4 linked regions of the Homo sapiens genome follow. The protein of the gene in region 1 purifies or fractionates together with the protein of each later gene. This does not show direct contact. Each region holds a gene or a part of one and is shown in the gene's direction. Other genes may lie near its edges. The genes, in order: RAB35, DTD2, PPM1H and MYEF2.

Region 1 (5,348 bases):
TGATTAAAACCCTTTGGTGCCTCCCCAGCACACACGAGAGAAAGTCCACGTTCTTGGAAGTGGCACACAGGTCCAAGATCTGGCCTCGCCACTTTCTGCCTGCCTTGGGCGGCAGGCTTGACCTCATGTGACCGCCCCCACTCACGGCTGTTTTTGCTACTGTCTCCCCTGCCTGGAGCAGTGGCTTTCAGACTGCAGCTCATGACCTATTTGTGTGTTTGGAAGTGAATTTTGAGGGCCCTAAATTTTTTTTGACTTGAATAGAAAAGAAAAACCCAGAGTGCCCGTAGGTCTACCATTCTCAGACATAGCTGGTGTGTCCCCATCTAGCCACTCTAAAGGAGCCTGTCCCACTCCCGCCAGTCCCATCCCGTGTTATTTCCTATGTGTCACTTTTCACTCTCGGAAATTGTCCTCTTTGTTTGTTTGCTTGCATCCTGTCTCCCTCCTTCACTTGTGTGTGGAGGGGCCTTGTGAACAAGGATGTTCAGGGCTGTGTCCCTGGGACCTAGAATGTACCAGGCACATGTAATGAGTCGGGAGGGTGGGGGAGCCTGGGGGTGTGTTGTGTGCAGCGTGGGGCTCAGGGCCTGGGAAGATACCGCGCTGGGCCTCGTTAACTGCCCTGTGTGTGCAGGCAGCTACATCACCACGATCGGAGTGGATTTCAAGATCCGGACCGTGGAGATCAACGGGGAGAAGGTGAAGCTGCAGATCTGGGACACAGCGGGGCAGGAGCGCTTCCGCACCATCACCTCCACGTGAGTCCACACGCCCACTCCCACCCAACCCGCGCCACTGACCTGTGGACACAGTTGAGCGACCGGTGCCTGGTCATGGTGGAAATGTCACTGGTGGGTCCCTGAGGCTGTCGGGAAGTGAGCCTGTTGTTGGCTGTAGTAGGTGGCGTTTGGCTGCACCCTTCCTGGTCCTGAAGATGTGAGGGGGGTGCTGTGGGGGAGTCGCTGAGCACCCTGGCTGGAGTCTGGCCGGACAGTGGCCATGTTCTATCTCCTTGGAGAGTCAGCCGACCCTCCGGCCCACTGTGCCGTCACCTTACAGAGAGAGCAGAATAGCATTTGCCTCGCTAGGGGGTTGCGAAGTGCCTTGCCCACCCAGGACTTAGTCGCTGACAATTCCTCTTGGTAGGTGTCAGTTATGGCAGCTGGAGTTGGCCTGTGCAGGCTCCCGTCACCTGCACTGATGCCTTGGAAGTGACGCTGTCTAGAGACGAACACGGTGCATGTCAGCAGGCCCTTCCCTACCCTTAAAGCTGTTCCTGGGAAATCCGGCCGCCCACCGGTTGCCCACCTTTGTGGCTGAGCTGCAGGCCGGGGGGAAGCTGGGCTCCTGCGCAGATGGGCAGTGTCCTTCGGAGCGGCTCCTGGTTATTGGGTTGTTAGTGGAGCAGGTTTTAGGAAAGAGCAGGGTCTGAAGGGGCCGATTTGGAGCTGTTGGGCTGTGTGTCCTTAGGCAAGTTGCCGAAGCTCTCTGCGCTCGTTTCCTGGAGGGCCTGCCTCTGGGATTGGCTTCCATGTGGAGGGTGCCAGGTGCTCTGCTGCAGGCGTCAACGTGCGTGCCGGGGTGTGGTGTCTGGCAGCTCTGTGTGCTTGGTGCTGCTGTCATCCCATTTGACAGAGGGCGCCCTGGAGGGGTCCCTCCCAGCGGCCAAGCCTGTGCTCCACACAGTGGCCTGTGCAGAGTGAGGGGCGGCTGTCTGGCTCCACGGGCACCTCCTTGGCTCTCTCGAGCAGCTCCTCTGGAAGTGACCTCAGGAAGGCGAATGAGGAAGTCCCAGCCAGCGGCCCCCTTCCTTCCCACAGCATGAAAGCCCGGCACTCCCCAGGCTGGCTGCCCCTGCCCCCGGGCCCCTCGGCATCTCCCGAGGGTGGGAAGTGTGGGGTGCAGCGCCCCCATGGATGGCTGGGAGTATGGGGGAGAGCAGGGCTGCTGGAGAGGGACAGGTGTGCTGGGCGAGCAGCTCCTGGGGCTGGAGCCAAGGCGGAGGGCTTGTCACTGGGTTCACCCTATGCTGAGCACATTTGTGCTGTGGCCCGTGATGCCCGGAATCCCTGGGAGCTCCCAGTCCCGGGGTCGCCCTGGTGTGGTGCTGTGTGGTGACCGTTGATGAGCCCTGTGAGCGAGGGCTCTGTGGCCTGCATGTCTTGGCAGCTGCCAGTGAGAATCTGCGGAGGACACTGGGGCAGGGCTGGCATCAGTGCTTTGGGCAGCCTGGGGCTGCAGGCCCAGGCGAGGCAAGCCCTCATGCCGTTGGCTGGTCTGGGCGCTGACCTCATGAATCCTTGCTCTGGGTTGGTCCTGTCGCTAGGATTTCAGCTGCTTTATTTTGGTTAATCCCGGTAGAGAGACCTGTGACTATCTCCATTTTATGGACAGGAAAACAGGCCCAGGGAGGATGAAGCCTCCTAACTCAGTGGGGCAGAGGTTGGGGGCACTCAGGGTTGGCCCTGAGTCTGCCGAGGCCCTGCATCGACTGGGCAGGTGGCGCCCCTGCCTTCCTGCCCCGTCCTGTGCCTTAAAACCAGGCGGAGGTTCAGGGTGGCAGAGGTTCAGAGGCCCGTGGCCATGAGGAATGAACTCCTGGGCAGGGCAGTGGGGCCTGGGGGGTCCGAGGCTCTTTCAGCAGGAGGAGCCACAGCCCCTCCCTGCCATCATGCAGTCAGCTGCTTTCTGGGCTGGGCAGAGCGGGAAGAAGGTGAACTGGTTCCTCCATTCCGTGGGGAGGCGGGGAGGAGTCACTCAGCTTCCTGGGAGCAACATGGGTTTTTCCCCAGGGGCTTGGGAAGGGGCGGCCTGTGGGCAGCGGCTGGGCCCCTGCTGCCGTCCCACGTGTCTGGGGAAGCAGACAGGTGGCTCCATCTTAGAGTCCCGCTCTGGCCCTCATGAGGCAGGAGGCCCAGCAGGGCGCCCTGAGGGGCCACTGGAAGTCTCGACGCCCTTTGATGGTCACTGGCAAAGAAGGAAGGAGTTTTGGGGAGGTGAGGAGTTTTCAGGAATAGGGCAGTCAGGATGCAGTAGCGTGACTTTTTTCCGATGCAGGGCGTTCAGAGAGAAACTGAAACTGCATCCTGTTAGCCTGGCGAGAAAAAGCCTTGTGGTCACCCCTTCTCGGGTTCTTGCTCTCAGAAGCTGAGGTTTGCCGGCCCTGAGAGGTGCGGGTGGGATGGAGGTGAGGGGAGAAGTGACAAGGAAGGCAAGGCCCTGGCGTTGGGCCTGGGAGTCAGCCCTGGGCGCCAGGACTTCCAGCTGGCCGCTGCACTCAGCCTCACGTCCTTGCTGGTCACATGGCCATCCTGAGGTCTGCTGGATCAGGTGGCTGCAGACATTAATAAGGTAATGGATACCAAGCCCCCAGCTCTGTGCCTGGCCTAGAGCAGAGTCCCTGTGAGTGAAGGTGATTCCTGGTGGCCATGGGAAACGTCGGTGCTCCGGTTCCTCCTAGCCAGAGCTCTGAGCCCCTGACTTCATCCCCAGACAAATTCTCTGCTCTCAGATAAAGCCCCTTTCCTGGGCCCCGGATGAGGCAGAGGCGCCCAGGGAGCCGCGGGGGCTGTGCGCCGGGGCCATGGCTGCAGGCGTTTCTTGGCATCTCTGATCATCTTCAGCAAAGGAGAGTCTGCAGAGCCATCCGCTCCTTGGGCTTCCTCTGCTGGCAGGGGACAGTCGCCTGTTCCTGTGGCTCCGGCGCGCCCTCGCTCTGGAAGGCGTCTGACACACCATGCCATGTGCTGACCCGGCGCTCTCAGCAGCAGCTGCCAAGGCCAGAGCTAGTTCTTGGGCCCAGTGCCAAGAGAGCTTGATCGTCACAGCTACCCCGAAGCCAAGGAGCGACGCTGCCCTGGAAGCAAAGCTGTGGGCAGAATGAAGCCCTGGGAAGAGATCCCAGCGGTCGTGTTGAGGATGGAGCAAGGATGGGGCAGGGGCGGTGGCAGGGGCAGGTTGGGCTTTGTCCCAGGGCTGGGCAGGAGCTCTGGCTCTGCAGCATCAGGGAAGATGCTCAGGGCTGCCCCTAAGCTGCCTGTTGGTTTCCTTCCACCACCTCTGTCTGGGACCACAGATTGTCCTTGAAGGCACATTGATGATGCTGAAGAACGCATACTGACTGTTTACTGCTCCCCCGCCTTGGGGTAATGCTTAGCTCCTTTCTTCCTCATGACCACCCCAGTTAAGGACTAGCCACCTGTGTGCTATAACTGTTGAAGCTGCAAGGTGTGGCAGGGTGAATGCAGGCACCTTCCCAAGGGCCAGCCTTTCAGAGATGGAGCCAGGGTTGGTCTTTGTCCTTAGATCGGGCCTCAGATGTGAAGCATTGGCCAGAGAGCTGATGGGCAGGTGGACAGGAATGGAGCTGCAGCCACAAGTCAGCCTGGCTGCCCCATTCTTGCTCAGCCTGCGCTGACTTGGGCTGTTCCTGAACTGGGGCTTGGGCTGTCCCCATGAACCTCATGGGGGTGGAGGTAATTAGGGCTGGGGCAGGTGGCAGCCAGAAAGCCGGGAGGAAGCGGCCTGTCCACTCATGGTTTGTCTGTGTGCTGTCCTGAGGAGCCCTGGGGTGGAGGTCCCTGCGGCTTTGGGGAGAGGGGACAGAGGGACAGCTCTGGCTGATTGCACAGTGTGGGGCGGGGCTGCCGCCTGGCCTCCGGCTCTTCGACAGCTCTCGGGGAAGCGGAGGCTGTGGTCCCCCTCCTCCTCCGGGGATTGATGTCGTCCTGTGCCACTGGGATGAATGGGGACATGGGGTCTGGAGAGGAGAGTTGGGCCTCCCCTTCCTTCTGGCCTTCCTGGCTGGCCCTGGGCTCTGCATGTTTGGGGTGATGGCTTTGCTGGGCGCCCTCTCCCCAGCCATCCCTGGATGCTTGTGTGGCTTCCATGCTTTTCCTGCCACCTGCACAGATGAGCCAAGAGTAGCAGGAAGGGAGGTGCCTACCTGCCCCAGGGGAGGGGCACAGACTTTGCCAGGGCGTCATGATGGTGTGGCTTCTTGGAAAGGTTCTCTAAAACAGGTTTGAGGAGCAAATATTTTTTTGAATGTTCAAAGACAGTGATAACATGATGTCAAATACAAAAACTGCCTGATTTCCCAAAATAAAGCAAGAACTTCAAAGATGTTTCAAGCCTGCAGCAGACTCTGAACAGCAGGAGGTGACTCCTCAGACCTGCTCTGCTGCCCAGGGGCTGGCCCTCCCGCCCTGTTGGTGCCCCGGGCGGGCAGGGGGAGTCAGTGCTGCCGCAGTAGCCTCTCCTGCTGGCCTGTTGTGGCTCGGGGGCATCTGCCGAGGCTGAGTGAGAGCCCAGGCTCCAGGGCCACCCTCACCTTTTCCGGGTCA
Region 2 (5,348 bases), on another chromosome or scaffold:
TTTTTATAGTTGCATCCAGACACTATAATTGCAAACTATCAGTCATTTAGTTTCCTTCCATGCTTATTTATCTTTTTTATGTTGTTCAGGCTACATCTCCTTATGCAAAATCACATGTATTTTATTGCTGGCATCCAAACTATCAGTTTGTGTTTATAAACTTAAAAACTATTTTAAAGGCTTTCCCTTTCACTCCTACACACATAACTAAATTAGTTTAAAGAGCTGACAAGTAATTTAGATGGTGAGAAAATGTAAATTCTTTCTTCTTACATATTCTCTACCCTGTTCTATTATTAAAAGTTCTTGTTTTTTTAGAAACAGCATTTTAATTGTCAAGATTTGAAGGTTACTTTCTTTGCTTGTTCTTAGTTTCATTCATTTAGAACTTTGCTGTCACAGACTAATGTTTTTGTTCCTGGTAAGTGAACTTTTTAAAGCTACAGTGAGAATTATCTGTATTTTTCTATATATTTGAAATGTTTTATACCAAAGAAGTTATAAGGAAAGTGATTTTTGACTTGAAGTCACAGCTTAACATCTATTATGGAATAAATGAAAGGCAAAGACCTTAATGAGGAGATAATGTTAGTGGAAAGAACAGGTATCGTTCTGCAAATGATTAGGTATTTATTTCTGACATTGCATGTGTCCAAATATAAATATGCTTAAGATTTCGATTCATGATGAAAACAATACTAGTGGAGAGGCCTGTGACAGTAGTGCAAATACCTATAATAACTTGCCAGCTTCTCGTGGGTATGCATTGGAGGCCCTTGCCTATTGTTTCAGTAGCACGATTGTACTTTTTAAAACTCACTTCTTTTCCAGGTAAATCACGTGTGAGTGCAGAGCTGCATTTACATTTATCTAGAAAATTCTTTGGATAACGCATAGAGCCTGGAACATATAGTTGAATGTTAATGCAATCAACAGATAAACTGAATCCCTATCGTGTACAAAACAGCCTGTAAAGTGCTTTGGAAGTTAAAATGTGAAATAAATTGTGCCTCTGCCCTTAAATTTATTTTTACATACTCATTTAATAAACACTAATATAGCACTTACTATGAACCAGGCACTGTGTTTAAGTACTTTACAAATGTTAACTCATTTAATCTTCCTAATAGCTCCTGGAGTCAAGATTAATTTACAGAATCAAAAAAATCTAATGATTCACTCAGAAGCAGAATCAAAGTCACTATTCAAATGTCTCTTTTCTGTATAGTCTCTGTCCTACAAGATCTAAGAAATATCCAAGCCATTATGTAAAATAAATAAGCCTATATTCCTGATAACAACCAACCTTTTAATGTAGAATTTACTATCACAAATGCAGTTTTCAAGTCCTAATCATGTTTATATAAAGCATTAACAACAATAACAACAACAACAACAAATAATTGGACAGTTTCCTGGAGCTTATAGAAATAGAATCAGACCCTTATTTTCATTATTTGTAAGTAAATGGATTAGGGGAAATAAAGAGAGATGATGTCAAAAGATATCAGTCACATGTTGTTTATCCATCAGCTGTATCTGGTATAATGTGAATTCACTTGGCATTGAATAAATGGGGCCCAGCAAACGAAATGTTTCTAAGTCTGTCACCCTTACTTGAGAAAAGGCTGGTTGATCCTCTTAATGATTTTGATTAGAAATAAATGTTTGAAGGTATAACTTGTCTTCACTGCTCTTGGGTATATTTTAAACTTAAATTTGAAAGAAATAACTGAGATGATTGAAAATTGAAAAATATTTTGTTTTCTCACATGAGAAATCTTTTGTAAAGTTCATTTTCTGTGCTTTTAACCTCTATGTCTATAATATTAATAGTTGTGAAACTGTACCCATTTAGCCCTGTATCTTTACAGATATTGTTGTAATCTGAGTTTACTGTGGTGATTTCTCATAGGTCCAAAGAGGACTGGTGATCTACGTGTGCTTTTTCAAGGGAGCTGATAAAGAACTTCTTCCCAAAATGGGTATGTGTTTGACTTTGTTTCTTTTTTAAGAGTGAGAGGCCAAGCATGGTGCTCACACCTGTAATCCCAACACGTTGGGAGGCCAAGGCAAGTGGATTACTTGAACCCAGGAGTTAGAAGCCAGCCTGGGCAACATAGTAAGACCTCTTCTCTACAAAAAATAAACAAAAGTAGCTGGGTACGGTGACCTGTGCCTATGGTCCTAGCTACTTAGGAGGCTGAGGCTGGAAGATTACTTGAGGCCAGGAGGTCGAGGCTGCAGTGAGCCGAGATGGTGCCACTGCACTCCAGCCTGGGCAACAGAGTGAGACCCTGTCTCAAAAAAAAAAAAAAAAAGAGAGTGAGAAAGAATAGTAATAGACAAATGAACCCGAAGGGACAAAAAGCACAATCTCTTTCCTCCCCTTTTATTTTTAAAATAATAAATAATAATTTTACATATTCATGGGATACATAGTGATATTTTAATACTGTATACAATGTATAACAATCAAACCAGATATGCATTATCTCAAAAATTTATTATTTGTGTTGTGAACATTTAAAATCCTTTCTTCTAGACTTTTGACAGTATACAATAAATTATAGTTAGCCATATTCATCCTACAGTGCTCCAGAACACCAGAACTCATTCCTCCTATCTAGCTATAATTTTGTATCCATTAACCAATCCCTGCCCATCCTAAGAAGCACAATGTTAAATTGTGCTGTTAAATTATTAATTACTTAATTCTATCTAGTGTTATTGGCCTTAGCTATTTGCCTGTTTCAAAGTTTAAAGTAAGCAAGTATGGTGGAATTTTTTTAAAACATCTGCAGCATTTCAGTGACTTACAGATTGATGTAGAAGAGTGTACACACATACACATACACACAGTGCACTTCAGCCAAGGATACAGAAACTTCTTGGAAGTAGGGTGGTCACACAGGGAGAAACAGATGCTGCATTTCTTAATATAGTTTCCTTTATCCCCTAGAGCCCCTAACAGAGGCAGTAGATGACACTGTATATACAAGATGTGGGTCTCATCAAACCTGGACAACTCAAGTTTATATCATTATTATGGAAGAATTTGCATTAGCCATGTGTGCACTTCCTTGTGGAAATAAGAATAGATGTAAGGTTCTCCTGGGTCTTGAGCTGAATTCAGTGTCATCACAGCCACACCTCCTCCAAGGACATGGAAAACAGAGTCAATGTTAGGGATCTCTGAATAGTAATTTACCTACCTGCAGCTTTCTGGTTTCCTGGACGGGCTATAGCACTGTATAGTGATATGTATATATACACTATCTCACATAGCTATAGCAATTCATGTGATAATTACATAGGTTCAGATATACCAAATCAAATCATACCCTCTCAGGACAGTATTTGGATATAAAGATTATATCCACAAACAAACATACATACAAACTTGAAAGAAAAGCTATCCTTAAGGTTGGGAACAGGTTGTATTCTCCTCATTAGTAAAGGACAGCATCCATTAATAAGTTGGATTAATAAGAAATATTAATTATACAAATGGGCAGTTGAAGCTTACAGAAAACCTAGAAGAGCTTCAAGGGCAAATAGGCCAATGAGGAAGAGCTTAGACAAAAAGCTAAAACTCCTAGAGGGAATTTTATACTGACATATCAAACATGTCTGACAACTTTGTCAAAAGATGAAAACCAGACTTAAGAGACTATGCTAGGTGAGAATGGAAAGCCAGTAACTGCAATAGTTTGAAATTTGAATCCAGAAGATAATAAGGAACCTCTGATGGGTTAAGAGCATAATGTTCTGGTCTGAAGAAGAAAGAAAAAAAAAGAGAGAGAGAGAGAGGCCAGGCGCGGTGGCTCACGCCTGTAATCCCAGCACTTTGAGAGGCCTAGGTGGGCAGATCACGAGGTCAGGAGATCAAGACCATCCTGGCTAACATGGTGAAACCCCGTCTCTACTAAAAATACAAAAAAATTAGCCGGGTGTGGTGGTGGGCGCCTGTAGTCCCAGCTACTCGGGAGGCTGAGGCAGGAGAATGGCATGAGCCCAGGAGGTGGAGTTTGCAGTGAGCCGAGATCACGCCACTGCACTCCAGCCTGGGCGACAGAGGGAGACTCCATCTCAAAAAAAAAAAAAAAAAAGAACATAATGTAATGAGGACTCCTATTACAGAGAATAATTGTCAGATCCTAATGCTGGAGTGTTACACATTCTGTCCACTTTCCTAAATTAATATTTTGCCTTGGATTAAATCTTTTTTGGTCCATAAAAAATGTAGAAATCTTCAAAAACAGGAAGAAAGTATTTGTCATTCTGACTTAAGATTGACTTCATAAAGTTGTCTTATGAATTCTCAAATGGTTCTTCATCATAATAGGATGAAATATGCCTATCATATCCAAACCACATGTTATTTTATAGTGATTAAATCCTGTGTGCTTCCATATCTGTCTTTGTGAGTTCACTTTAAATACATGCATAAGATTGTAGTGAATTTAAAACACTGAGGAGGTCCACCCTGACTCTTGTGGATGGTCTGACACTATCTAACACATGATTTTTTATATCATGATTTTCAGTAAAGAAATATATGACTCTAAGAATCATATTCTACTCGTTTGAGTTGTAAGCAAAGTAAGTCCATCTATTATTAATAGTATTAGCTTGTACTTCCCTCTATTCCAGCAGGCTAAGTAAGTCAATGTGGTGGGATTCTCTTAAGCCTCACCTCATATTTATTACATAGATTCAGATATTTCCAATCAAAGCATATATCACTTGAGAATATAATAACCAGTTAAATCTGCAAAATCTGAAATAGCATGGTTAACATAGAGATGTGTAGAATCTTCCTCAATTCACCTTCAGTATAATTGGACAGAGAGGGCAAGAAACCTGTCAAAGCTTAACATCTCCTATACATCATTAGAGATACTTGATTGATAACCTGTTTTAGGATATTTGAGTTTCCAGCATGCCATTAATTCATTGTCTCGTTTTAATTCTACTTACTGTTTCTACATTGTATTTATCTACATACTGATATTTGTATGCCAACAGCATTAACTGAAATCTCAATTATAGCCAGTAGAGGGAGGTATGTGGAAACATAATAAATTGTAGCATTACCTCTCAGGCCTGTTATTCCAAAATTGCCTATTTACTCTGTCACTAGCTGGAGGCCTAGATAGCTAGATAGTGATTTCGAGTGGAATGAAGTGCCCTGGAAAGTTTCCTTACAAGCAGTCAATAAAGACTGCTGGCTAAACAGCAAAGTCCTATTTGTAATAGAGAAAACTAGAGGTATTTAAAAATAAATGTTAGTTAAGTGAAAATTGATGATGCTTAATGCCTAGCTTAGGAATTCATTTGGGTGT
Region 3 (5,348 bases), about 57 Mb from region 1:
GAGGAAACTGAGACTGAAAAAGGTGAAGCTACATGCTCAAGGTGATAAACAGCTGTAACTGGGCTAACAGTTGTTTGTTCGCTTGTTTGTTTTTTAACTTGGTTATAAGCAAAATTGCAAGACATGGTCTTCATCAGCTCTGTCCCTTTCATCTTACCCGCCTCCGCTGTGCAGGCTGTGGCACTGGAGAACCCTATCTGGAATAAACCATTGAGGCATAAACTGAAGGTTCTTTCTGTGTATTGAGTGGCTATTTAAAAGCTATTGTGAAACAAAGAATGTTTTACCAACCTTGCATATTATATAGAGGACAAACAGGCTCGAAAGATTTCTTCCCTAGCCATCCCAATACAAGGCTGTTTTGGTATAAACAACCCCTGAAGGTGAGAACTGGCTCTCGAAGCAGTTTCACACTCCATTCATCTCTGAGCTCTGCTGTTTCTCACAGTTTTGGATTCGTGATGAGAATACTGTTGCTGGGTCACTTCATTATTACACAGACCCTAAGGCCAGAAACCCATCTCCCCTTTTTGCTAATTATGCATATGCCAACTTATTTCCTCCCTCTTCAAGCATATAAAGACAGTATTTTCTGGTTTGGTAAAAGACACACACACACAATTCTGTAGGGAGAACAACTCCCTATAAAGGAAGAGGTAGTCAGTGTGGTGAGTGGATGGGGTCTCAGGGAAAATGAAATCCCTAGCAGTCGGTGTCAGGGCAGCAGGTCACTAATTGAGTGCAAACCTTTTTTAAAATGTTGTTTATCCCCTACAGGGCATACAAAACCATTGAGGATGAGGACTTGAAGTTCCCCCTTATATATGGAGAAGGCAAGAAGGTAGGCACGTGTGCTTCCCCTGGGTAGAGAGGACAGGGCTCTGTCCCGCCTTCGCTCCACATAGCCCGTGGCAGTCCGTGTGTTCCACTCAGCAGCTTGTGATTTTATAGCCTTGACAGCTTGAAAGCATATCCCATCCATCATCCTTCAGGCCTCCTGTCTTCAGGGTCCAAGGAGTAGTGGGGGTGGGAGGTGGGCGGTGAGCACAAGGGACTCAAGCCAATTTTGTGAAAATAAAGTCCCCCTTCCCAATCCATTTGAATAACTTTTTACAGTGTTTAAACATGAACCACTTTCACACACATCATCTCATTTATATCTGACAACGAGCAAGGAGGCAGGTCAAGCTGGCTGTGTTATATCCATCTGGCAGACGAGGCAGCTGGGACTGTGAGGTTAAAACAGCTCAGGCAGATCACGCAGCCAAGCGAGGGGCAGCTGCGGATGTGGTGCCTTGGCTTTCTGTCTGCTTCGCGCGTCTCAGACTCCACCATGGAAGTCCAGACTTTGCAAGTCTGTTTGCCACTTGCCCCATGGAAGAGAGTCCAAAGCGTCACTGTAATTAGACTATAAGGTCACAGCAACCAGAGTCCAGACTAAGATAACAAAGACCATCATCAGCTCCCAGGGTTCCAGTCAGAATCCAGCACTGAACAGCACGTTGTCGAACCAAAGAAAAGCTGTGGATCCTAAAGTGGTCTCTGAGCAGAGGCCTGGAGGAGGTTGAAATCCTGGAGTGGAGAGCAAGAAGCTTGGAATCTATTTCCTAGTAAGAACAAACACCTTCTGAATCATTGCATTCTTCCTCGGAACACTAATACATTTCAACTCGGTGTGAAGCATTCCAAGTGAAAAATGTGGTCACATTGAGAAGAGTCTTCAACTGATAATTTTTCCAGCATTCGATACGATAGTTTTTATCAAGAAGAAATGACTCAGAAGAAAACCAAAGGATGCCTTCCATGGGCAGAGTGTGTGTGTGTGTGTGTGTGTGTGTGTGTGTCAGAGCAAAAGCAAGAGAACAAACATGGTTAGGTTTTGGGCTCCGTGTAGACCAGCAGTGATTTCAATGCAAAAAGACATCTCAACAGAAGGAGGAATACCAAACACAAATATCTGATCCATGTAGGAATCATTTTTTAAACGAACATACCCCATTCATGAAAATGAACACCTTTCAGATCACAGTCTCTGGTTAAGAATCGTGTCAGGGCTAATAGGCACTGTTCTGATATAAATATTTGTGCCTTTTGGTACAATGGGCACCATTAATGAGTATCATTCAGCCCAATGACCTATGCCTGCAGCTCCATTTCTTTGTGGGGCTGAGATTCTCTGTATTACCCTTTAATATCCAGTGAGTTCCAGTAAACTCAGGAACACATTCTGTTACCCCTGTATCTCTAGTTCCTGTCTAGCCTGGTACCTGACATAAATGCATAAGTATTAAATAAGCTGTTCAGTTATGTTCAGTATACTTTCCTTAGTACAATAGGAAAATGGAATGATGTATTCTTGGAAGTTTATAGCAGTAAGATTTGAAGGAGCAAGAGTTTTCTAATTTTAGTATAAAGTTCAATTCACCAAAACATCATGTTCCTCAAGCATTTCAGGTAATTTAAGCTTGATGGTCTTGCGATGGGCAGGTGGCAAGTTCTGTCCGTGTACCTGTTGGCCTATTTAAAAGCCACCATGTCTCCATTTTGCTTTTGTTGGTAGATACCACCCCTTTCTGAGGACTCCATGAGTTCTTGGAGCTCCTTCTAGATCCTGGACTGGGATTTTCTCTTTCTTCTCCGCGTACCCCTACGCAGAAATTTCAGAGTACTTCTGTGGCCATTACTTCTCATTTTCTTTCTTCAGATGCTTTTAAAGACTGGTGTGGGTAACACCTGGATACTTCGTAAACAAGGTCAGTCACTAGCAGAAACATCAGATTTCTTTGGCTGGAAAGAGCACACAGAGAAGCCGCCATTTCAGGGAGGAGAGCAGGAGAGCCACAAGGGACTCAGAATTTTTCACATTTAGAGTTGAGCACTTCTTGGCTAGAAGGGAGCCAGTCCAGCCTCCCAGCAGGGCAGAGGGCCCCAGGCTTTGCTTTGCATCACTTTTTTTTTTTTTTTTTGAGACATGGCATCAGGCTGGAGTACGGTGGCACAATCTCGGCTCACTTCAGGCTCGACATCCCAGGATCAGGTGATCCTCCCACTTCAGCCTCCTGAGTAGCTGGGACTACAGGCGCATGCCACCACACTGGCTAATTTTTGTATTTTTTGTAGTCAGGAGGTTTTACCACATTGCCCTGGCTAGTCTCAAACTCCTGGGCTCAAGTGATCCTCCTGCCTTGGCCTCCCAAAGTGCTGGGATTACACATGTGAGCTACTGTGTCTGGCTGTGTCTCGTGTCTTTATCCCCTCTGACCCTTGCCCTCAAAAAGGTGTCATGGTTTCATTTCTGCTTAATGTGAACTCTGCCTACCTTCCGAACCAAGGCTGGCTTCAAAATTCACAGCCCTGTTGACAGTCTAGGATGAAGATGAAGACAATATATTAAATTGCAGTGTTTCTTAGCATTTATTTACTTCATCCCCACTCATAGGAGGTAATTACTCTTATCACCCAGGTAATAGAGTGAGGATTCAAGCTCAGGTCTTTGAACCATTTCACTACACCGGATATATTTTTTATGATTAAGGGTTAGGACACTGCTTTCTTCCACCCAGGATGACTTTCACTCCATCCCTCTGTGTCGCCTGTCTTGATGCAATCCACCTTTCTGTGCTAAGTGCCACCTCCTCCGTGGAGCCTTCTCAGTAGAATTTTTACCTCCTCTAAACTTGCATAACCCATTGTCTATGTGTTTTTCAGTACTTAACCATATTTTATGTGTTATTAATTACACATCTCCCTCTTATCTCCCTTACCAAGTTTCTTTTTGGTTTTTTTATTTGTTTGTTTGTTGGTTTGAGACTGAGTCTCACTGTGTCACCCAGGCTAGACTGCAGTGGCATGATCTCAATTCACTGCAACCTCCACCTTCCAGGTTCAAGTGATTCTCATGCCTCAGCCTCCAAGCAGCTGGGATTACAGGTGCCCACCACCATGCCTAGCTAAATTTTGTATTTTTCGTAGAGATGGGGTTTCACCATGTCAGCCAGGCTGGTCTCAAACTCCTGACCTCAAGTGATCCACCTGCCTCAGCCTCCCAAAGTGCTGGGATTACAGGCAAGAGCCACCGCACGTGGCCCCAAGTTTCTTTGTAGTAGGGACGAGGCCTTAGACATTTGTGTCCCCAACATATGATGTAAGTACATAGTAGGCACCCAATAAATGTTTGGGTAAATCAGATCTTCAGCATAACAGGAGATATTTAAGCTGACTGTGTAGGCATTGGTGTAATAGTGTTACTTCCTTACACCATTCAAAAACAGTTCAGGATGAGGTCTCAGCCCTGAGGCCTCTGTGTAGCTATGTCACAGCACTGGTGACATTTTGTTCCTTTCCACCCAGAGGGAATTTGTGGAGATCTTAGCAGGATAGGTTATAGAGTTGATAAGTTTCTTTTCTCCAGCCATAAAACATAATAGGTGAACTCTGGGAGGGCAAGAGCTATTTCTGATTTTTTACACCTTTTACTAGTACATATCACAGGACTAAGGACATAGCTGGTGTTGAGCAAATACTTGTACAGTGGATATGTAACAGAAAGATTGGTGGGTGTGTGGATGGGTGGGTGGATGGATGGATGGATGGATGGATGGATCGATCAATCCTATTGGGTTTGATATGAACTGATTTCTGCAGCTGTAGACGTCACGCATGCATTGGAGTTAGTTTATTGGACATCCTTCCTTCCAGTCTCCAAAAAAAGAAAGCTGAAAAGAAACAGCAGCAACCTGTCAAGCTTAAGATAATGGATAGAAAAAGCACTCCTCAAATACAGAAGTGATTTTGGTGAGCCCTTTCTTGGTAAGAGCTATCCACGTATGTTAGCAGCAAGGGGCCTGGAAACATATCTGGGCAGGAGGAACTGGAAAATTGTTTGGTTGTTCCTAGCCCAGGCAGCTGCACTGGAATGGGATGCTTTCACTGTGTGCGTGTTTCTGATGACCCTCTGCTTATACTCCTAGGCCCGGGTAATGGCAACTATTGGAGTGACCAGGGGACTTGGGGACCATGACCTGAAGGTGCATGACTCCAACATCTACATTAAACCATTCCTGTCTTCAGCTCCAGAGGTACCGCATGAGGTTTTTGTTTATATTTTGTGCAATAAAACATTTTCGGCGTTATTCCTCCTGTGACTCACACCCCATATCCAGACAGTAGCCAACTTGTATTATATGTACTTCCACTGTATCTCTCACGTCTGTGTCTTTTTCCCACTCCATTCTCACTTTGACTCTTCTGGTTCACACCTTCATCACCTCTTACCCAGATGGCTGCACAGCCTCCTCCTGACATTTTCTAAGTCTGCCAATCCATGCTACTTATTGCAGTCAGGTAAA
Region 4 (5,348 bases), on another chromosome or scaffold:
CTATTGTTTTTCTAGTATATTTCATTTATTTTTGCCCTGATTTTCATTATTTTCTTCTTTCTACTAAGTTTGGACTGAGCTCTTTTTTCTAGTTCCTTGAGGTGTAAAGTTAGGTTGTTGGAGATCTTTATTCTTTTTTTTTTTTTTGATACAGAGTCTTGCTCTGTATCAAAAAAAAAATGTGCAATGGTGTGATCTTGGCTCACTGCAACCTCTGCCTCCTGGGTTCAGGTGAATCTCCTGCCTCAGCCTCCCAAGCAGCTGGGATTACAGGCATGCATCACTACGTCTGGCTAATTTTTGTATTTTTAGTAGAGACGGGGTTTCACCATGTTGGCCAGGTTCATCTCGAACTCCTGACCTCAAGTCACCCACCTGCCTTGGCCTCCCAAAGTGCCGGGATTACAGATGTGAGCCACTGCACCTGGCCTGGAGGTCGTTTTTCTTAATGTAGACATTTACTGCTCTGAACTGCCCTCTGGTAGTTTTCCTCTGGAACTGGGATTAATATTGGATCTCATACTACACCATTATACTTTTAAAATCACACATTAAAACTATGTTTCTTCTTTTGATGTTGGAGCTTGATTTTTTTCAGAAATGTATGTTATAATTTAGATACGCATAGTTCAATTTTAAGAATAGATAACATTTTTATGACTATTTTAGGGTTTTTATTTTAAGTACATTGTGGGAGTGGTTGTCTAAATGAACAGTTTGGGAATTTAGTACTTGGAATTCTGGATGTAGTACCAATATTTTGGAATTATGTAGCATCATTTCCTTAAGAGTTTTCACATATATTTTTACTTTCTCTTCCAAAGTATTTATGACTTGGAAATAGTTCAGAAATTATATAATTATGGCTCAGTTTCTTAATAATTAGATCATCCCTGTAGCCTCTCAACTGTTATGCCTTTTATAGTTTTTTTTCTTTTTTTGTTATACACTGGGAAGAAACTTAAGATAAATTTTAATTCTACATCATAGATGAGCAGTTTAGCAGTATTTTTAAGATGCTTCTTATGGGGGAAAAATGAAGAAATTTACTTTCTCTGATCATCTTTGAGTAAATATTTTAAAGAAAATATTATATATAATGTTACTGTTTTTAATGGAATTTTCAGATTGTTGTAAGCAAATATTTAATCTATGTAACCCCACCTAAGTCAAGAATAGAACATTGTAAGTACTTCAGAACTTTGTGTAATTTTCACAATTGGTTTAATCCAGGAAGAAAATAGGCAGGGGAAGGGGTATTAATCTAGAGACTATATAGATATCTGCTTACTGAATAGAGTCTTAGTTACTTTACAAACATTCACTGAATTCATCTAAGCCTATTATGTAAACAGGCCCTTTGGGAATTGAAAAGAAAGGTTTGTTCTTCTATCTGCGGTACTCAGAAACCAGAGAAAAGGCCTTTGTGCCTTTTGGCTGCTTGCTGCCATTTTCAAAAGTGTCACTCTGTTTAGACAGGTAGGTACTTTCTAGATTTAGACAGTTGAGAAGACTCCCCCCTAGGCCATGCCATTTCTGATGAAGGAATATGTTTGATAGTGAAGATGTCCTTTTTAAGGTCTAAAAAAAATGGCAAAGCAAGTTTGGTCCAAATGTCTCTTTCTTTATTCTAGCAGTTTTTCTGGCAACATCTGTGCTCAGATGAGTATGGATTCTTAATTGACTGTTAATTCATTAAAAAATTATAGCACAATGTTATATGCAGTCACCGTGCGAGGTGCTGCTGATACCAAAGCAGATAGTTTTTGTTCTCATAGAGTTTACATACTATATTTATGGCTGTGTTACCTACAAAGAAGAGTAGTGTTCAAGAAGCTCTGTATATATTATGTAACAAATGACTGCAGTTAGAGGTGTGTGGAGCATTGCAATGTGTGGATCACCAGAATTGCTGGGCTTAGAAGATAATTTAGAGCCTGGCTCATGAAACTTGGTTTGTTGTCAGAATAATCCAGAAAGCTTTAAAAAAAATTTAGATTCCTGGGTGTCATCCACAGTGATATTATTAGTAATGTTTGTGAAAAATTGCTTTAAAATTGAAGTTTTGTTATTAAAATAGTTTTAAATTGACTAGAGCACTTATTTAAATAAGAAATCTATTGGCCGGGCACGGTGGCTCACACCTGTAATCCCAGCACTTTGGGAGGCCGAGGCGGGTGGATCACCAGAGGTCAGGAGTTTGAGACCAGCCTGGCCAACATGGTGAAACCCTGTCTCTACTAAAAATACAAAAATTAGCTGGGTGTAGTGGCAGACACCTGTAATTCCAGCTACTTGGGAGGCTGAGGAAGGAGAATTCCTTGAACCCAGGAGGCGGAGATTGCAGTGAGCCGAGATCTTGCCACTGTACTCCAGCCTGGGTGACAGAATGAGACTGTATCTCAAACAACAACAACAACAACAACAGCAACAAAAACCCCCACAAAAAACCCTATTGTTTGTGCTGTAAAAAAGACTTGTTTTGAAAAGTAAATTGCATTTTAAAATAGAAATCCAAATTTTTATCTGTAGGGTTTAAGTGTATGCCTACATCTTTTGGATGGTTGGCATATGACATCATAGAGTTGCATTGTGATTACGGTATTATAAATTACTTTTTTTTCTAGTTAAGGCCTCATTAAAAATCAGGTTTGGCCAGGCGTGGTGGCTCACGCCTGTAATCCCAGCACTTTGGGAGGCGAGGTGAGTGGATCACGAGGTCAGGAGTTCAAGATCAGCCTGGCCAAGATGATGAAACCCCGTCTCTACTAAAAATACAAAAAATTAGCTGGGCATGGTGGTGGGCACCTGTAATCCCAGCTGCTCAGGAGGCTAAGGCAGAGAATTGCTTGGACCTGGGAGGCGGAGGTTGCAGTGAGTCGAGATTGCACCACTGCACTCCAGCCTGGGTGACAGAGCAAAACTCCGTCTCAAAAAAAAAAAAAAAATCAGGTTTATAAAATTTTGGCTTACGTTGCTTTTATGTACTGCTTCTGTCCTACATTACCCATTGTAGGTAATATTAATGAAACTGCATAATTTGATGAAGTACCCTATTCTAGTTTATAGGTTAAAATGTAACATAAAATATTAGGATACTTTATAAGTTTTCTGTGTTGATCAAAATTGGGAATAGAAGAAAGTTTGAGAGTCTTAATGTGAGTATATTCATATATAGATGTGGATTTATATACATAACTTTGTATTTTAATTATGCTTCTAATTAAGGGAGGAGAAAGTTCTGAGAAGAAACTATTAACCTTTAAGAGATGAACTTTTTCAGAGTATCACTGTGTAAGTTAGTTTTTAAAAAAGTTTTTAATGATGCCCAGAAAGTTAATTCTCCATCAAAGGTGGCAGTTTTAGATACCTTAGAAGTAAAATTATCTGCTCTTCCCTCTGTTCCAGTCTAATAGCATTTATTAATTAAGTAGTGTGATGGGAAAAACTGGGTGATTGTTTGGATGCTTACAACTATTTAATGTGGGAAAAAAATGAGGACTGTTAAATGAGAAACCAAATCCTTGCTTTGAAATAGCATTGGGTAATTTCAAAGCTCTCAGGCTGATTCTCCAGCTACTTTGCTGAGGTCTAGCTTAGTGGAGAGTTTTGTGAGGTGATAAATATGGAATACTTATTTAATATAGACTTCCATTCTTATAAGCACAACTGAGGGTTTTTGTTTGTTTGACTTTTTTTAATTCACAGGGAGAATGATGAATCAGCAAAAGAAGAGAAATCTGACTTAAAGGAAAAATCTACAGGAAGTAAGAAGGCCAATAGATTTCATCCTTATTCAAAAGACAAGAATTCGGGCGCTGGAGAAAAGAAGGGTCCAAATCGTAACAGAGTTTTCATTAGCAACATCCCATATGACATGAAATGGCAAGCTATTAAAGATCTAATGAGAGAGAAAGGTAACTATCTCTGAAATAACCCACTGTTGGATAATCTTCATATAGGCAGGGGAGGGAACTACACAAACATTTTTATTCCTCTGAGCCACACAGACTCAAAAAATTGATTTTTATTTCTTGACATGTGAATTAATCTTTTCCTCTTCTTTCTCTTGACACAATTTCATTACAAGGTAGTATGGATATTTTTCTTTTTGCCATTTTAGTGGGATAGTAGCGAGCCAGCATATGCATGCCACCAAGAATTTTGTTAAAGTGATTGCTTTGTCTAGTTGAAGTTTTTATAGATTTTAAAAGGGCTATTGCATTAGTTAAGCAATACATTTAGCGTGTTAAGAATGAATAATAAGGTCTGATTATTTATTTTTTTTCCAAAAGCTGTTTTGTTACTATCTTGGTGGAGTCTGGAATCTGGCTGTGGAATTTATTTTGTTTGCATTGTCATGACTGCCATGATGCTGTCTTTGCAGTTCTAAATTAAAATTGCATTACTGCTGTTGCAGTTTTGTTTTCAGAATAATCTGAAAACCTTCATCTTATATACATGGTTGGTTTTGGGGAAAAATAATTTTAATACTTGATCTTGTAAAAGTTAGTTTTGTTATCTCTTGAAAAATTGAGTTTCAACAGTCCTGCAAACTATGTACTTGGCTTTGAGGCTGATCTCTTCTAATAAATTTTTTTTTTTAAATTGCATTGGTGTATCTGTTGTAAGGTGACAACTATTTGATTGGTTTTATTCATTGACTTTATTTAGAAAGTGTGTGGCTTGCTGTGAAGCATGATTTGTAAATTTAGTTTACTGATGGCAAACATGATTGAAGACATTCAGGTAGAAAGTCACCTTAAAACAGCTGTTGTGTGTAGGCTGACCAAAGTTATTTGAAAAGTGCTAATGTTGATGTTTTTTAATATGATAGGTTAAGGGACCATTTGTATGTATATGTGCATTTGTTCACCAACTATATCATGCTGGCCAAAATATGATCTGTAGTATGAATTAGGTTAATATGGTTGTTAGCTTTTTTTTAGAGAATGTGGATGATGTACATTTCTGAAAATTAGTTAAATTTACATAGCCATTGATAGGAGGTATGTTGGTCTGGTTTTGATTGTTGGTGAATAATAGGTGCTTCTCTGTAGAGTTGTGCACAGGTGTGCAGTAAAGCAAGATACTGGTGTTTAAATGTATTGTTTCTTGGTATCTTCCTTTTGTATGTCTTATGTAGTTGGTGAGGTTACATACGTGGAGCTCTTTAAGGATGCGGAAGGAAAATCAAGGGTAAGTGCTGTGGGCAATAATCTGCTTGAGGTTTAAAAGTTCCTCAGCAGTTTACTTTTTGTATAATACTTGTACCAGTTTTTGGAAACTTAAGTTTCATTTTGTTTTACTTTATTATGCAAGATTTGAGGCTCTATACCAGCAAGTCT

What was found.
Region 2: the proteins of RAB35 (region 1) and DTD2 fractionate together in Homo sapiens (co-fractionation; one large-scale study listed by BioGRID). This does not show direct contact.
Region 3: the proteins of RAB35 (region 1) and PPM1H purify together in Homo sapiens (co-immunoprecipitation; one study listed by IntAct). This does not show direct contact.
Region 4: the proteins of RAB35 (region 1) and MYEF2 fractionate together in Homo sapiens (co-fractionation; one large-scale study listed by BioGRID). This does not show direct contact.

What each region holds. Positions count from the first base shown.
Region 1 is NC_000012.12:120,099,239-120,104,586, reverse strand, and holds part of RAB35 (ras-related protein Rab-35), read left to right. Parts: intron 1-637; coding exon 638-761; intron 762-5,348. UniProt on the Homo sapiens protein: The small GTPases Rab are key regulators of intracellular membrane trafficking, from the formation of transport vesicles to their fusion with membranes.
Region 2 is NC_000014.9:31,449,912-31,455,259, reverse strand, and holds part of DTD2 (D-aminoacyl-tRNA deacylase 2), read left to right. Parts: intron 1-1,915; coding exon 1,916-1,985; intron 1,986-2,376; exon of another isoform or gene 2,377-3,153; intron 3,154-5,348. UniProt on the Homo sapiens protein: Deacylates mischarged D-aminoacyl-tRNAs. Also deacylates mischarged glycyl-tRNA(Ala), protecting cells against glycine mischarging by AlaRS. Probably acts by rejecting L-amino acids from its binding site rather than specific recognition of D-amino acids.
Region 3 is NC_000012.12:62,689,429-62,694,776, reverse strand, and holds part of PPM1H (protein phosphatase 1H), read left to right. Parts: intron 1-777; coding exon 778-841; intron 842-4,970; coding exon 4,971-5,078; intron 5,079-5,348. UniProt on the Homo sapiens protein: Dephosphorylates CDKN1B at 'Thr-187', thus removing a signal for proteasomal degradation.
Region 4 is NC_000015.10:48,167,200-48,172,547, reverse strand, and holds part of MYEF2 (myelin expression factor 2), read left to right. Parts: intron 1-3,708; coding exon 3,709-3,917; intron 3,918-5,146; coding exon 5,147-5,199; intron 5,200-5,348. UniProt on the Homo sapiens protein: Transcriptional repressor of the myelin basic protein gene (MBP). Binds to the proximal MB1 element 5'-TTGTCC-3' of the MBP promoter. Its binding to MB1 and function are inhibited by PURA.